2 separate regions of the Homo sapiens genome follow, and region 2 is linked to region 1. Evidence: fine-mapped expression QTL. Tissue or cell type: testis. Region 1 holds a variant in brackets; the other region holds the start of a gene. All regions are shown on one strand. Distances are from middle to middle.

Region 1 (8,098 bases):
TGAGTAAGGGCAAGAAGTGTCCTGCTCAAGCCACCCCTCCGCTCAGGGAAGGTCACTGCCCGGCCAAGCCTTGTCTTTGAGGGCGGTGCCTTCCCTGGGCAGAGAGGGGCTGCCCCGGCCCTGGGGCTCCATGGCAGGGCACAAAAGGAGAGGCAGAGCCCCAGAGAGGGAAGGGGGCTCCTGGGGCCAGGCTGCTGAGAGGAAATAATTGCCTCTTTCTGGGTGAGGAAGAGCTGCCTTCCTGATGGCTGGTGTCCTGGGATGTGGGGCATTTCTCTGGGGTAGCCATTGACGTCATTTCCTTAGCAGCAGGAGAGCGGGTGAGAATTCCCAGGAGACCTCAGCCTGGGTGGGCGCTTGGTGGAAAGTGGGCTCAGATGAGGTCTTCAGATGGCAGCAGTAGGCTCTGGCTGCTTGGGGTCCACCAGGAGCTGGGCCAGGCCTCCTAGGTCCTGCTGAGAAGCAGGTAGGGGAGGTGACCTGCAACTCTGTCTCCCTTGGGGATCTCAGTTCCTGTTGAGACCCACAGCCTGAAGACCTCTGTCCTCAGGGTCTCTCCTCATCACACAAGATGGGGAGACTGAGGCCCAGGGGTGGGAAGGGCCAGCCAAGTCTCACGGGGAACTCGGGGGTTTTCAACCCCTGGGCCATGGCTCTGCCCCTGACGAGCCCCGGGCTGCCTCCGTTCACTGCCGCTTGCTGGCCCTGTTTCTGGCTGAGCACTGGGTCTATACATTTCCACGTTGCCTCTCCCACGGCAGGGGGACTGCGACATGGCCTCTCCCTCTCCCCGTGCCTCCCTCTGCCACCAAAAAGCTGGTCAGGGCGGAGCATCCCAAGGGCCCTGATGCCCCTGAAAGTCTCCCTTCTAGGGGGCAGCTGGTCCATCTTCAGGGAGCTCAGCACGTGTCTCAGCCTAGGCAGACACTTGGCCCTTGAACCCGGAAGAGTGTGTGTGTGAGAGAGAGGGAGAGACGGGTAGGGGAGAGAGAGGGAAAAATGGAGAGAAAGAGGCTGGAGTTCAAGGTGGAGGAGCAGAATCCTTGGTCTGCAATTGCCAGGGAGGGCCTTGCTGCAGGGCCCTGGGCCTCACTGAGGTCATCCCTTCCTTGAGCAGGTGAGAAGGGTGAGACCCAGGGAGGGGGTGACACATGGAGACCTCCTGGGAAGGCCAGGTTGTTGGGTCTGAGACAGAATCATCAGGAGTAACGGTGGCCTCTGTGCCTGAGAGCCCTGGTGCATGCCCAGCCGGCTGTATGGTCACCTGGTCCTTCTAGCCCCAGGCCCCAGCTGTGCCTCCCCCCAGGACACATTTGTGTTCAATGAGCCTTATCCCTGCCACGAGCCTGGGGGCTCCCCAAGCCTGGGCCTCCCCTGAGGACAGGGATTCCAGGAGGGCTCAGCCAAGCCCCACTTGGGGCCTGGGGCCAGGTGGGTGTGCCAAAGGAATCCCCCCATTGTCTCAGGACCTTCAAGGCCAGGATCCCGGGGGCGGGCCCAGGTCACACGTCGGTGCTGATGCTGCGGCTCCTGGCGAAGGCCTCCCGCATGGCTGAGAGGCGGTTGGGGTTGAGCGCCTGCAGGCCCCCGAAGCCCCCCGGGGGCAGCTCCACGTCCTCCTGGCTCACGCTCTTGTAGAGCACGCGCTCCCCGCCGTTCAGCACGTCCTCTTCCTCCTCCGGCGGCTCCTGCAGGAAGAAGGTGGGGGGCTCGCAGTGGGAGCAGCTGCGGCAGAGGGCGCGGGCCTGCGGGGACTTCTGGCTGAAGGAGGTGGAGGCGGTGGGGTAGAGCGCCGGCCCGTTGGTCAGCACCAGGTTGCGGTTGGAGTGCAGCGGGGGCAGGTGCGAGTGAACGGCGAAGTCTGGTTCCTCCTCGTCCTCCTCCGACTCGTCCTTCTTGCAGCAGTAGTACTGCGGGCAGAGGGACGGTGACCATGCGGCCGCCCGCTCCCACCCCAGAACCGACATGTGGGAAAGGCTACCCCTGACTGGGGAGGGGAGATAGGCACGGTGGGAGTGGGGTGGCCCAAGCCCAGGCCTGACACCTCAGCTGTTTAACCAGTGCTATGGGTCTCACTCAGGCCAGGCGCAGTGCTGAGCACTTCACAACGATCCACTCATCTCTTCCGCCCAGCAACGTGCAGGTGTGACTGTTATCTCCATTTTGCAGGTGGGGAGACTGAGGCGTGGAGGGGTTCGCAGCCCCACATCAGCAGAGCCGGGGGTCACAGGCACTGGCAGCTGTGTTGCCTCGCCCTGCCCCGATGGCTCCCCCTCATCTCTCAGGGAGACATGGAGACTCTGGATGGCCCTGGAGTGCAGGTGGGAAGGATTGCTCACTGTGACACTCCTTTTGGGCAGCTGGTGCCCTTGGCTAAGTCCCTTCCCGTCTCTGAGCCTCTTTATAAGCTCTGGGTGAGGGGAGTCAGGCGCATCTTACTGAGCCCCATGGTAGGGTCCTGCTGCCTTCTGCTGTGTGTCTTCTCTGCCACAGGGCTCTTCCCCACTTCCCGGGCCGTGACCCTTGTGACCTTCAGGCGGGGCTCCCTCCCGAGGTAGGGGCACCCTCTGGGCCTCCCTGCCCTGTCCCCTTCCCCGCCGCCCGGGAATACCTGGAGCCGGCAGTAGCACAGAACAGCGATGATGCAGAGCAAAATCACAGTCGCCAAGATGCCCCCGGTGATGACCACGGTCCCGGCTGTCATCCGCCCCCTTCTCCATCAACAGCCTGCAACACACGCCGCCAGCTTTAGAGCATCACGCTTCCTCACCACAAAAGTCACTCGTGCTATTCTAGAGAACTGAGAAGACAAGCTGAGGGGAAAAAAGCACCCCAGGATGTGCCTGTGAGAGGCAGGGGCTCTGCCGGGGACGGGGTGCAGCAGGAGCCCAGGTCCTGCTCTGCCTCAGCTGGCCTCTGTCCCTGCCCCTCTCCCAGCCTCAGCTTCCACATCCGTAGAAGGTGGATGCTAATAGCACAGGGTTTTGTGACACTTTTACAAGCGTGTCTCTCCATGCTTAGTGTAGCATGCTGTCAATGAATGGCGCCCTTCCAGCCTGGCTCTACAAGCTTGCACGTTTTTAAATTTACCCAAATGCAGTCAGGCCGAACATATGGTTTTGTAACCTGCTTCCCTGCATTTTCATCTCACACAGTCACCATTATTCTGCCATATCCTTAAATTTTCTTCTGCAACATAGTCTCTAACCCGATTCCATTGTTTCATGTAACTGACTCCTTTTCTTTAAAATGCTTAATTGTGGTAAAGCACACATAAAATGTACCATCTTCACCATTTGTACGTGTGCGGCTTAGTAGCATGAATTATATTTCACACTGTTGGGCAACTAATCTCCAGAATTTTTCATCTTGCAAAACTGAAAACCAATTCCTGCCTGACGTTTGGGCTTCTTACATTAAAGAAATATTTTTAGCAATGTTTTAATAAGCGTCTTTGTAGCTAAGTAATGGGAACCACCTGAACCTGCTTCAGTGGCTTTCAGGATACATTCTTAGAAGTGGGATTTCCAGGCCTAGGGACATGCCCTTTGCAAACTCCTTCTTGTGGAAAATGTCCATCAAACACAACGCAGGGAGGCTGGAGTGATGCTGTCAGTGGCTGCTGCATTCAGCTCATCCCTGTCCTGGGCTGTGCTGATAAACCAGCTCTCAAAGCACCCGGCTGGGAGCATTTGCTGATTTTTGTGGTGTAGATTTTCTTACCATGGCCAGTTTCAGTTCAAGCAAGGTTTGACAAGCGGCTTACAAAATTCCTAAATTCTTCACAATCACCTCTCACAGAGCAGTGGGAGCTGGCGCCACTTCCCTTCCTCAATTTCCCAAGCCTCATTTTTATTTTTTTTTCTTGCTGGGGTATGGGGTGGAGGAAGAGATTGGAGTATTTTAAAGGAAATCACAGAGCATATCACTTTACCCATAAATACTCCAGTGCAGCATCTGACGGAGGAGGATTTTAAAAAAATTACCCAGCCTACGTTTAGCTTTCTCCTGTCGTCTCTGAAATGCCTTTTTTACGGTTGGTTAGTTCAAATCAGGATGTACTTGCTTTTGGCTCCTTTTGCTCTAGAACAGCTCAAAACCCATTCACGCCCCGCACCCCCATGTTGTTTATTGGAGAAACTGGGTTGTTTATCTGACAGAATTTTCCAGGCACTGGAGCTGGCCGGGATTCCTCGCATGGCATTGAACATGCTCCTTTATCAGTGTTTCTCCTCTAAACTGGCTTCCTGTTGCATCACTCCCAGGGGCCTG[G/A]TGTCTGCTGTCCCCCTCATCTTGACGTCACAATCAGCTAATGACTGCAGCTGCTCTCGGCCAGTTCTTCCATTGCCAGATTCCGGGGGGTCTCCCAGCCCATTGCTGCAGCATCCTGTGCGTGACCTGGATCTGTTACTTCACTAGGAGTTACAAAGTAGTGACTTTCCAAATGTTATCCTTCTTTCCACGTTTATGAGCTCCAGTTCTTCTTGAAAAAGCTCTAAAGCACATGCCTTTATCATCTGTGTGGTTACCCTAGCATGCGGCCTGCAGAGGGAAGGCTCAGAGGTTCCATTCCTCCCTTTATCAGGGATCAGAATGAGCTGGTGCCCTGAGGTTTGTGGCTGTGTGTGTGCCGAGAGGACGGAGAACAGGCCAGCCCAGATCCACACCTCTCAGTGAACCAAAAGTGACCCTGCCCCCTTTGCAGGCCCCGCGTGCCTACTGGTCCCAGCCTGTTGTCTGCCCCAGCTTGCCTTTCTACGTGGAAACTTGCCCAGTGCAATCTCACTGATTTTTGAAAATATATTTGATGCGTTTCAGTCCACTGCAGTCATGATTCTTTTTGATGTTCAAATGATCCCACTAGGGAGCAAACCGAGGCCTGGAGAGAAATGACCCGCCCAGGCCCCAGCACCAGTAAGATGAGGGATCTGGGTCAGGTCAGGGCTGGATCCGCTGCTACCATCCACCTTGGGGCCCCTGCCACCCTACCCCGACTGCTGAACCCCATGTCTCCTCCACGTGAATGCCTTGAATGCCACAGCTCCTTTGGGGAAGCACACACTGTGCTGATAGCAGGTTTGGGGGTGCTGGCCCAGCCATGGCCCTCTTCTTTGTGCCCTGAGCCAAGAGGCTGGTGGCCACTTCTGAGCCCTCTGCTGCTGTCCTTTCGGCCACAGTTTATTGGGTTTGGGATGGACGTGCACCCCAGGCTGGGCCAGCCGGCCTCTCTCCTGGGAAATGGAATTAAGGCCTGAGACACTGGCCGGTCCCTGCTGGTCGCTTGACCTTGGGTAGAGACATGAGTGCTCAGGCTGTGGCCAGGCTGTAGCCACGGGTGGGGTTTTCAGCCACATGTTGGAGAGTCAGAAGGCGCTGGTCCCCGGAGGGAGCGAGGAAGGCCACAGCTGCCGGAGAGATTGCTGTTGTGGTCCTGACTCAGGTGCCGATCCCTCCCCGACACCTGCAGAGTGACTCCTGCTGTGTGTATGTCACCTACTGTGTGTATGTCACCTGGAGGGCATTTTTGCTATTTGCACCCAGGTAATTATGGCCCCACTTCATCAATGAGGGCACTCACACAGCTTGGGAGGGGTTGAGGGAGGTGGAGGCTCGTGCCCGAGTGTTGTCTGTGGTCATGCAGGGATTAAAATTCAGCACCACCCTCCACTACGGGCCATGGCTGAGGGCCCACTGCTAGGGCTTACTGATAGCAATGGGGGCCACTGCTTTCCCATAGGGAAGCATGGGCCTGGGTGGAGGGGCTCCCACTGCTGTCAGGCTGAGACTGCAGGGAGGATGGAGACTGTAGGTGGCCATGGCTGGGCTGAGGTGCTCCCTCAGGGACAGGTACTGGGGAGCCATACAGGACACCCAGGCTAAACCCCCAAGTGCCAGCCTGGCTTTGCCTCTGGTTAGCTGCAAGAATGGGCCTTCAGTGCCTCCATTCCTCTGCCTCAGTTCCCTCCTCTATAAAATGGGAGAACCCCAGGGGTTCTGTGGGACAGCAGCTGCACCATGCTCAGTGCTGTGCTGATGTTAGGACCGTGTCCCTCCCTGGGTCTGAGTCCTTCATCGGGTCCCTGAGGGAGCTGGCCCCGCTCGCCGCAAAGCTCTCTCTCAGGTCTGAGATGCAGCCGGTCCCTGGCTCCGCCTGGCTGCAGCTCCTCTGGGCCCAGGTCTCCTCCAGCGGAGAGCAGCCTGGCGGCGTGACGGGAAGGGTGCCGGCTCAGGCCAGGTGCCCAGGGCTGTCAGCAGCCACCCTCCAACACCCAGGCTGGTCCAGCTGGAGCCTCTCAGCCTCGCTCTGCAGATACACGCCTGCCGAGGAGCAGCAACGCCCGAGACGGCGCCAGGTCCCAGGGCCAGGCATGGCCGACAGACACACACTCCGCTGGCAGCTCCACCAGCGCCCAGCCTGACATCAGACCACAGTTCACTCCGAGCAGCTCCCAAAAACACGGCCTCCCTGGGCCTCCACCCTCCTGCCTCCCCTCTGCTCTAGCTGTGCCCCACCCTCTGGGATGCCCATCCCCCCCCCGGACCTACCACGCCATCAAAGCCCAGCACGTGCCCTCCTCTCCCAGGAAGCCTTCCTGAACTTTAATACACACCACAGAACTTCAAAACTTCAAACGCCAGAGCTGAGAGGGACCAGGTCCCACCCCTTCATTTAATGGGGGAAGAATATGGACCACCTGCTGCCCTCCCTGAGTGCTTACCTTCAGCCTCCTCCCTGGGGACCCCAGGACTCTACTCAGCTGTGGCCCAGGTGATACGAGTCTGCGGGGCCTCTGTCCTGCTCTACTCTTGCGGGTGACCTTGGGTCAGAGGCCTCTCCCTGGGTTCAGTTTTCTTATCTGTACAATGGGTGTGGCAGGGTTTAGACGCTGATTCCTCCCAACTCTGGGGGACTTGGATTTTTAATTGGTCCTGCCAGGAATCCAGATGATTTAGACACCCAACAAAGTCAGGATTATGAAAATGTAAACAAACATCAAGTGATAAGGCGAAAAAGCCAGATGACACCCTCCAAGGGTAGGCAGAGAACGGGAAGGGCTACAGACACTTTGGCTCCCAAGGATACTTGTGCTCTGAGAAAGCTGAGTGCCTGAGAGAACAGGGGAGGACTTGGCTGCTCAGGGTGGTAACGGATGGGGGAGGAACCGAGGGAAACTTCCTGGAGGAGGAAGCTTCTGAGCCGGGCTGTGAAGGATGGGCTGGGAGAAGAAGGAGAGGGCCTGTTGGTGCTGGGAACAGCACAGGCCAAGCCTCGGAGGCAGAGCCATGCGGGTCAGGCCCAGCAACAGCCTGGCAGAGGCTACTCTGCCGCCTGCTTGTGACTCGAGCCCCACCCCTCTTCCAGCTCCCTGAAGCCTCCGCACTGCCAGCCAAGGCAATTTGGCGAGAATAGCGCTGAATTGTTTATCTGCCCCCTGGGACCATAAATGGTTTTAAAGCTTTATAAATGGCTTTGCTTCCCTGTTCCCACCCCGGGTTTTTACAGGGACAGGTTGTGAGATGGGGCTCCCCTGTGCGTCCCCCACCCCAGTCCACAGAGTCTGTGGCAAGGGGGCCTGGGCGGGCAACAGTCCCCTTCTGAGGGCCCCATCTCGTCTCTGTAGCCGGCAGGGAGAGCCAGCTGCGTTTACAAGCTTCAGTTGTCTCCTGCGGCACCGGCACCGAGGAATGAATGGCGTGGAGCTGGGGGTGGGGCAGGAAACACCTGGCAGCAGAGCCAGACACGGGCCTCCACCTGCCTCCCCCGGGAGCCCCCTCCCCACACCCACCTTTCCCTGGCAGGAGACCCCCTGCTAACCACCATCTGGGCCACACGTCCCGTGCTGAATTTCAGACTCTGCTAGTTTTCTGTCCCTCTTGCCACATCCCCCTCACTTGCCGTAAAGCCCACGGGAACGGACCCCTCCAGAGCTTATTTATTTTGTGCCCCAGCCCCAGCCCCCGCCACTGCCTTGCATGGTACAGGGCCCAGGCGACGCTTAATGAAGGCTTCTGTCTGCCTCGTTCACCTGAGATGCCCAGCGCTCGTGGTAGGAGCCAGGGAGAAGCCAAGGCCTACATCCTCGGCACTGGCCGTGCC
Region 2 (8,098 bases), 28 kb after region 1:
AGGGAGTGGTATAGGAGTGACATTTGGGCAGTCTCAGGCCGTCTCCCATCACCCCAACACAAACATCCAGCCCTCAACATGCTTGTCACTTGCCCTCTTCTTACCACCCTGGTCCAGGCCTCCATCATTTCCCTTCCTCCCCAGCTTCCTGCCTGCAGGGCCCCCTCTCCAAGTCATTCCCCATGGTGCAGCCAGAGAGGGTCCCTAAAGGGCAGAGCGAACCATGTCCCTCCGGGCTCCCAGAGCCTGGTTCCTGTGGACTGCGGCGGAAAGCCCAACCACTGAGCAGGGCTTACAAGCCTGGCGGAACCGGACCCCACCTGACTCTCCAGCCTCCTCCTTCACTGATGAGGCCCGAGGGAAGGAGGAGGCACAGTCTCCATTTTCCAGCCCAAGACCTTCAGGCCCAGGGTTCCACAGCCAGAAAGCAGCAAAGCTGGGCTTTCAACTCTACCTCCACCAGCCCACTTCACCCCAGGGGCAACAGGATTCCTTCCCCTCTCCAGCAACCCCCAGCAAGCGGGGATTGGGCCAAGGCCTGCGGGAGGATTCAGCAACGGAGGGAGGGAGCTGGCAAACACTGAGGCCTCGGAACTCATCAAATCCCCTCTGGAGCAGATCCAGAAAGACTGAGACACTGCAAGAAGTACCAGTGCCAAGTGTGGCAGCAGCTGGCAGAGAAGCCCCCCAGCCCCACCCTGGCCTCTGTAGGGTGGTCCCCAGGACCACATGCTCTTGGCATCCAAAAGCCTTTTGGCCAGGCTCACGGTTGCCCCGGTGTCCCATGTGCCAGCAGGGAAGGCAGGAGCACCCTCATTTTTGCAGATGGGGATGCGGAATGATGCACCCGTGGTCTGGCCTGGAAACCACTCTCTCTGCCACACAAATTGCCATTTTACCAACACACAGATCAGGACTTGCTACTCTGAAGAGGGAAGTGGCGGTAGGGCCAGGAGCGGAGTGGAGGACAGAACAAGGGCTCGGCTGCTGCTCTGCCTCCCCTCCTGCCCCGAGAGTTTAGAGTCAGAGGTAATTGACTGAGATGTAATACATCTCTCCCCTCCCGAGTGCTGTAATTATTCCTCGCTGGAGCCCGCTGCCATGAGGCTGCAGAGGCAGGCCCACGTGGCAGGAGCCAGAGGTCTCACTGCAGGAGTGGGTCTCCATGCTGTGAAGCCTCACCCAGAACCAGCACCAGAAAAGTCAGGAATATAGAGCCAGCCCCTAAATATACAAAACGGGGGTGATCATGTGAGTAGGGAGTAGGGTTGGCACGGACTGGGGGCTTGGACTCAGGTCAGTCCGAAGATTTCAAAACTGCTCTGCACTCCCTCAATACCATGGCAAAAAGGGAGGAACTGCACTCCTCCCAGCTTTCCTACTCCATCCGGGGCTTAGATGAACAGAGCTGTAATGGCTCAGAGGGGGGACATGAAATGATCCACCCCACAATTTTGTACATGGGAGACTGAGGTCTAGAGAGGAAAGTGACTTGCCCAAGGTCACCCAAAAAGGTGGACAGAACTCGAGTCCCGACTTCTCCATCTGTGCCCACCTTTCCCCAGGTGCCCTTGCTCATGTTTGCTGATGGTACTGGCATGACAGACGTGTGTTGGGGACTCCAGCCTCAAGGGTAGGAGGAGCTCTGTGGGGCTCCTTGCCCTACCTGCTGGAGAGGCGAGGGTGGAGAAGCTGCAACACCTCTGTGTGCCAGGATTCTGAGTGGTGTCAGCACGTCCTGAGAGTCCAGCAATGCACCCTGGAGCTCCCACTCCCTCCCCATGCAAGTGGGGCACTGAGGCTGGGAGAGCCTGTGCATCCTTCCCAGACCCCCAGATCCTTCGGGAGCCATTTCCAAGCTTTCCGGCTGAGTCTAGACAAGCCGGCCCCATTGGAAACTCAGCTGATAGGGAAACCAAAACCCAGCTGGATCCAGGATACAAAGACTGCCCTGTGGGTCTTTTCATAGCATCGTGCAGATGCTCAACAAACTGCCAGCAAGTGCAAGACCGAATGAACAAAACCCCACATTTCCTGGGCCCCCGAGCCTTAGGGTGAGATTTTTTCACAAGCTGCCAGCACCTAAGCTGTTTAGGAAGCTTGCAGTCAGTGCACCAAGAGTTAAAACCAGCCCTTGCCCAGCCCAGGAAGTGCTGGTTCTCACCTGCTCAGGTGGGTAGAGCCCTGGTCACCTCCACTTCACTCTCAATTCTATAAGAGGGAGAAGGTGGGAAGATGGGCAAAGGTGCTTTCCCAGCAACCCTGAACTTTTTGGGGGTTGGTAATTACTGCTCTCCCCAGAAGCCCTGAAGAGCGTGAGTTGGCAGGGGCTGAGGGAAATGCAAGGGAGAAGGCTGGCAGGGTGGCCCGCTGGCTCTCCTGAGCTCCTGCTTACTGGGGAAGGTGCTAGGACGAATGCTGGGGCTCAGGCCTCAAGGATACTCCCCTTACCCTGCAGAAGGTTCCATGAACTTGACCCTTGAGTTTCTTGTCTCAGAGCCATCGGGGTTGCTACGGGACACACACTGGCAGGACCACTTGTGCCCAGGCAGTCCGTGGCTGCGGGAGGACAGGACACGAGTGGGGTGAGACAGTGGAGCCCTGAGGACCCATGTTGAATATCTCTTGGGTTTTTGGTGTGTAGAGTCTTTTCTTTTCTGGCTGAGGAAACCTAGTGTCAGTTAGGCAACCCCCCACCTGTCAATGAAGCAGAGATTCCTAACAGACAAAGGTGTGAGGTGGTGGTGACAGAGGCCGGCGTGTTTGAGGCCATCTCCACCACTTCCCCACTCTGTGATCGTGGGCAAGAGACCAAACCTCTCGGAGACTCAGTTTCTGCATCTGTGAAATGGGGCCAATGCCCCTTTCTCGTGGGTGTTGGGTGAATGGGATGGGATGAAAATGCAGCACCGACTCTGGAAGAAGGCAAAGCTCAGCAAATGAAAAAGTCTTAGCTCCTGGCAGGGAGAGAAGGCGGCCAGGTTTCCAGAGGGCTCTTCTGGGAAACTTTCCCTCCCCACTGCCCCCTGCCCCCAGGCCACTGTTCCGAGGGAAATGAAGCCCCCCTTCCTAAAGTGGGTCCCCCACCTCTCCCTTAGGCCCTCGTGCCCACCTGGGTCTCAGTCTCCTCCTCGGGGATGCGCTTTGAGGGTGGAAGCCAGGGGATGGGTGACGCCAGCTGGGTCAGGGGACCTGGTGCGAGGCAGCCGGGGCAGGCTGCAGTGGGCACTCTGGACGAGTGGGCACCTAGCTGGAGCTTTCCAGCCTGCGTCTTCTGCCCCACACCCCGTGACCCGCGGCCCGCTCGGCCCTTACCTTGAAGCATGGGAACCGCGCTGCCCCGGCCGCGAGGACTTGGGCGCACGTGACGGGGCGGGCGGGCGTCCGACCCGGGCAGGGCGCAGCTAGCGGCGGCCGCTCATGCCCAGGCCACGGCGGTGGCGCCTGGTGTGGCTGGGCGGGCGAGGCGGGCGCTGAGAAGCCCGGGAGGCCCCCGGGGAGGCGACTGCGTGCCCAGGCGGGCACCCCTGCCAGCTCCGCGCTGCGGCCGCGACTCCGGACGCCCCGGCTGGCTCCCTGCGAGCTGCACGCGCGGCTCCAGCCTGGTCCCGAGCGCAGGGCGCGCGCTGGCGGGGAGGGCGCGCGCCCGAGCCTGGCGGGGAGCGCGCGTCACCGGCCCGCGCGCGCAGTCGTCGGGGGATGCCGGGAGCGGCCTGGGGAGCTGTCCCTGGTGCTGACGGCTCGTCCGCTCTCGCCCGGGACGCGCGACCTCCTGGAGGCCTGGGGGTGCCCCCACCCTGGCCGGCGCCCTGCGGTGCTCCCTCCGCTCTCCGCCTGTTCTCGGGGCGTTCCGGCTTCCACAACGTTGGGATCTGGAGTCAGGCCGAAGCTGCTGCTTATCCGCAGTAGGGCAAGTCCCTTATCCTGGTTGAGCGGCTGGTTCTTATCTTTAAAATGGGGAGTTAACACCAGCACCTTTAGGGTTGGTCTGAGAATGAAATCCGATGATGTTTCGAGGCCCGGCACACCATAAGTACTTAATAAATGCTCGCCTTTGTTACTATTTATTTCCCTTCTCTGAGTTAGCAACCCCGGAGCAACTGAGAGGAGGAGCAAGGCTTACGCTGCTCCTGGTGAGTGGCTGTTTGGGGCATGGCGGCTGCCTTTGGATCTCTCCCACATCCACGGGGAAGGGGAGCAGATCCCTTCTCCCTGACCCCAAAGCACAGAGCTAAGACCAATGGCTAGACGTTAAAGCAAGGCAGATTTGGGCTGGATACGAGGGAGACCTTTCTGACCCAAGGCTCCTACTCCTGAGAGGAGTGCCCCAGGAGGCATTTCCCTGTTTCTGCAGGTCCTCGAGCTGAGCCTGCGGTCGCAGGGACCCTGAACGGAGAGAAATCTGGTGTTAAGAATGTTAGGAAGGCTTTTGTGTTAGAACATGTACAGCACTCAGAGCTGTGCCTGGTGGGAAAGCACCATATAAATGTGTGCTTTTTTTTTTTTTTTTTTTTTTTTTTTGAGCCATATCACTCTGTCACCCGGGCTGGAGTGCAGTGGCGTGATCTCAGCTCACTGCAACCTCCACTTCCTGGGTTCAAGTGATTCTCCTGCCTCAGCCTCCCGAGTAGCTGGGACTACAGGCATGCGTCACGACACCCAGGTTGTTCTTTTTGTATTTTTAGTAGAGACGGAGTTTTGTCATGTTGGCCAGGCTGGTCTCGAACTCCTGACCTCAAGTGATCTGCCCGCCTCGGCCTCCCAAAGTGTTGGGATTACAGGTGTGAGCTGCCACGCCTGGCCTTAAATGTGTGCTTTCATTATGATCAACCTTTAAGTTCTCTATAAAAAAACTCCATCCTGGTAGTAACCATAACCTTGCTTCATTCTAGACATGAGAATACTGAGGACAAACAGAAGAGTAAAGTGCTTGGAGTCCATTTCCCTTTTACAGATGGGCTGAGCACAGATGGGTGAGCAACTTGCCCATGGACAAGAGAGTGAGTGTTCACACCATACAGACATGCTCCAAATGTCCAGCCTGCTGCCTCCCCTGCTGGGGCCCCTGGCAAGGGCCCCTGCTGAGTTTCTCCAGGCTGATCAGGTCACTTTGACCATAGAGAGTTTTCTTATAGCAAACCAGGCTAGTCCTCCTTCCTCTTAACTAATGGGAAAAGCTGGTCCCTGCCCCCTGTGAGTATCTTGTTCTCTTCCAAGCAGGATAATTAAACATCACCTGCTTCATTTCCCAAGGGACCAGGGGCTGTGTTTGATTCATTAATTAACTGCGAGTAGTACCTGCTCCCACCAGGCACTTGTCTCATGATAAACATCACTCATTATGTGCTTAATGCGTGCTAGACACAAGGCTAAACACAGTGCGAGCATTGCCTCATTTAGTCTTCTCAGCGATCCGATGAGATATGGATACTGTCATTACCCTGACTTTGCAGGTGAAAACTTTAGGCTCAACAGCAGCAGACCTGAGGCGGATCGGCCTGATTCCCAAGCCATTGCTCCTAATCCCCTTCTTCTAGAACTTCTACATCCTTCCCAACCAGCCCCACCTAGAAAGAAGGATGGTAAACACGGATAGAAATTCCTTATAAGGAGAGAGAGAGAAAGGCAGAAAGAGAGAGAGCCAGGAGGAAGAGACAAACCAGCCAGCCAATCGATGTCCTAGGAGTTGACACAGGAATCCTTTAAATCATCACTTTTAGTCAAAAACTCCATTATGACAACTGAGCAACTTGTTTTTTATTTGAGAGTTGCAAGTGTGTGCCAAGAATTTTAAAAGCAACATCACTGCCAAGCCCTGTCTTTACCAACCAGCTCAATGCCCTTCCACTTCTCCCCATGCTGACTTTTTACTCAAACTCTGCAGAATCCTGCAGCTATAGATCTGAGCAGCTGGAAACCTCTGTGGAACCAGCTCAGACTCTGTAGCTCTTGGCCTCTTGACATGCTGGTTTCTTTCCCATGCTGTGGAGAGAGATGTGTTCCTGATGCCCGTGATGACGAAACCTTATTTAAAATGGAGCCCATTTTATTTGAAAGAGGTCTGAATATTACCCACAATATGTACAGTAGATGCCTGCATTGCCCTCGCTTTACAGATGGTAACAAAGGGGTGAAGTGACTTGGCCAAGGTCACACAGCCAGCAAAGAGGTGACTACACTGAATAGATTTCATTTGGATCGCAATGCCAGATGGTCACCACCAAACTCATTATTTATGTGCAAAAGCATGCCCTGATTTTAAGCAAAAACCAATTTCAGAAAATAAAAATGGGTGAGGGGAGAGAAAGACAAGGAAGAGTCTCTGGTCTGACTTTATAAAAACAATTCATCATCAGGATTCCCTAAATAGCAAGTTCTCCTGGTGCGTGCAAAAAAAAGGATCCTAGTTACACGCAGTTCTTTTAGGTTGGCCAAAAACAGGCCCGGGGGTGGGAGGAGTGACATTCTGCCGCCGGACTGGTTCTCCATCCACTACAATAAGCTGTTTAGTCGCGTGGCAACCTCAGCCAACGGCAGCTACTCTGTCCCCACCACCAGCATCATTCCACAACAGAGCTTCGTGGATATAACTCAAATTCAACAGATGGCCAAGTTGGTTGAACACCTCCCAACACATTGGTTCATGGGTGGCAGTTTACAAAGGTTCATTTTCCACTTAGGGCAAATGGGGCTTGCGTAAGATCAGCCTGACACTATACAAGCAGGACCTCTGTGCGCATCCGTTTCTTGGAGTCGAGTTGGATAGCCTCATTGCTCAAAGACTTACAGCCTCATGAAGAAGAGGCATCAGGCTTTCTTTCTCTCTGAGGATCTATATGTGCACAAGAGGTGCTCATTGGCTGGATATAGAGGAAAAAACAAAACCAGCGGTGGCGGGGAAACCCTGACATTCCAATCACACCTGCACCCCCATGCACAGTCCCCTGCACACTCGAATGGAGGGAACGACGTTCTTGGGAACAAAGGATGTGAGCAGCTGCTGTTGATGGCTGAGTCTCATTCTACAGAGGCAGAAAGAACAAAGTGCTCGAGGAATAAAGTTTCTGCCAGGATGTGGAGAGTAATGAGAATGATGGCCAAGAGCTTCTCCTATTCCCTTTCTGGGAACCCTCTGGAAGGGAGGAGCTCGCCATCTCCAGACATGTCTGAGCAGAGGCTGGCTGTCCACTTGCAGCACAGCTGGCACCCGGGGACCCCTCGGTGTTAGAAGTCTGTGAGATTCCAGAAGGGGCAGCTGCTCACTGGTCTGTGTGGGTGCCCCCTGGCCCCCAGCACCGACCTCCATTCAGCTGCTCGATGGATCTCAGGGCACTGAAAGGGGGTCCACGTCCGGTTTTCCAAGCTCCTCCTCATATTGGTGCCAGGCCAAACTATTGAAGTGGTTGCTGTTTCCACATATTTATGGAAATTACCTGGGCCTTGCCGCAGTTACTAGATTAACCTTTGTTTGGTCGTTGAATTGTTTCCTCTTCTTAGCCTGCAGCCATAAGACGTTCTGCAGTTGATTGACTGAGCCCAGCAACAGCCCCTTTGATCCGTTTTCACTGAACCTGTGTCCACTCAACTCCAGATGATCTGTGCAGGTCAAGATCAAGCCCATTTAGAGAAGAGATGAACTTTTTAAAAAGAAACTATTGAGAGATGGGTAACTGCAAGTCACTGTGATTACTCTGTGATGCCGAATAGGCAGAGTGTGCCTCGCATCCTGGGTCTGTTAGATTGGACGTCTTTTAGATGGGACCAGGAGAATGACGAGGTACCAAAGTGTGCAAGAGAAGGTGAGAGGGTCGGGCAGCAGAGTGTGCCAGCGGACAGAGTGGGAGGCGTGCGCGGGCTCAGGTGTGCAGCGTGTGGGGTGTTTCCATTGCCCTGGTTTGAAAAGACAGCCTCATCTGTGTGAAAAGAAATTACCGGTGGTTTTTAATTACTGCAACATTTTAAAACATTGTGACAGCAAGCTTGATGTGTTCGTTCTTTAAGAATCATCGCAGATGATGGATGAGGAGGAGATGGGGCTGAGAGGCGCTCGGGGACCCGTCAAGGGGTCTCTCCCGGCTCCCTCTGTGAATCACGGATC

What was found. PIP is the estimated chance that this variant, and not a neighbour inherited with it, causes the effect.
Region 2: FAM163B starts here. The variant in region 1 is fine-mapped to the expression of FAM163B in testis (GTEx, PIP 0.96).

Annotation. Positions count from the first base shown.
Region 1 is chr9:133,577,520-133,585,617 of GRCh38, forward strand. It overlaps FAM163B (family with sequence similarity 163 member B), which reads right to left. Exons shown (of 3, transcript NM_001080515.3): 2 at 2,612-2,727; 3 at 1-1,910. The coding sequence starts at 2,704. The coding sequence ends at 1,503. It overlaps LOC124902296 (a long non-coding RNA gene), which reads left to right and starts at 1,919. Exons shown (of 2, transcript XR_007061833.1): 1 at 1,919-2,321; 2 at 4,266-4,820. RefSeq lists an enhancer at 91-706. The variant G/A (reference allele first, on the strand shown) is at 4,273.
Region 2 is chr9:133,605,762-133,613,859 of GRCh38, forward strand. It overlaps FAM163B (family with sequence similarity 163 member B), which reads right to left and starts at 3,628. Exons shown (of 3, transcript NM_001080515.3): 1 at 3,316-3,628.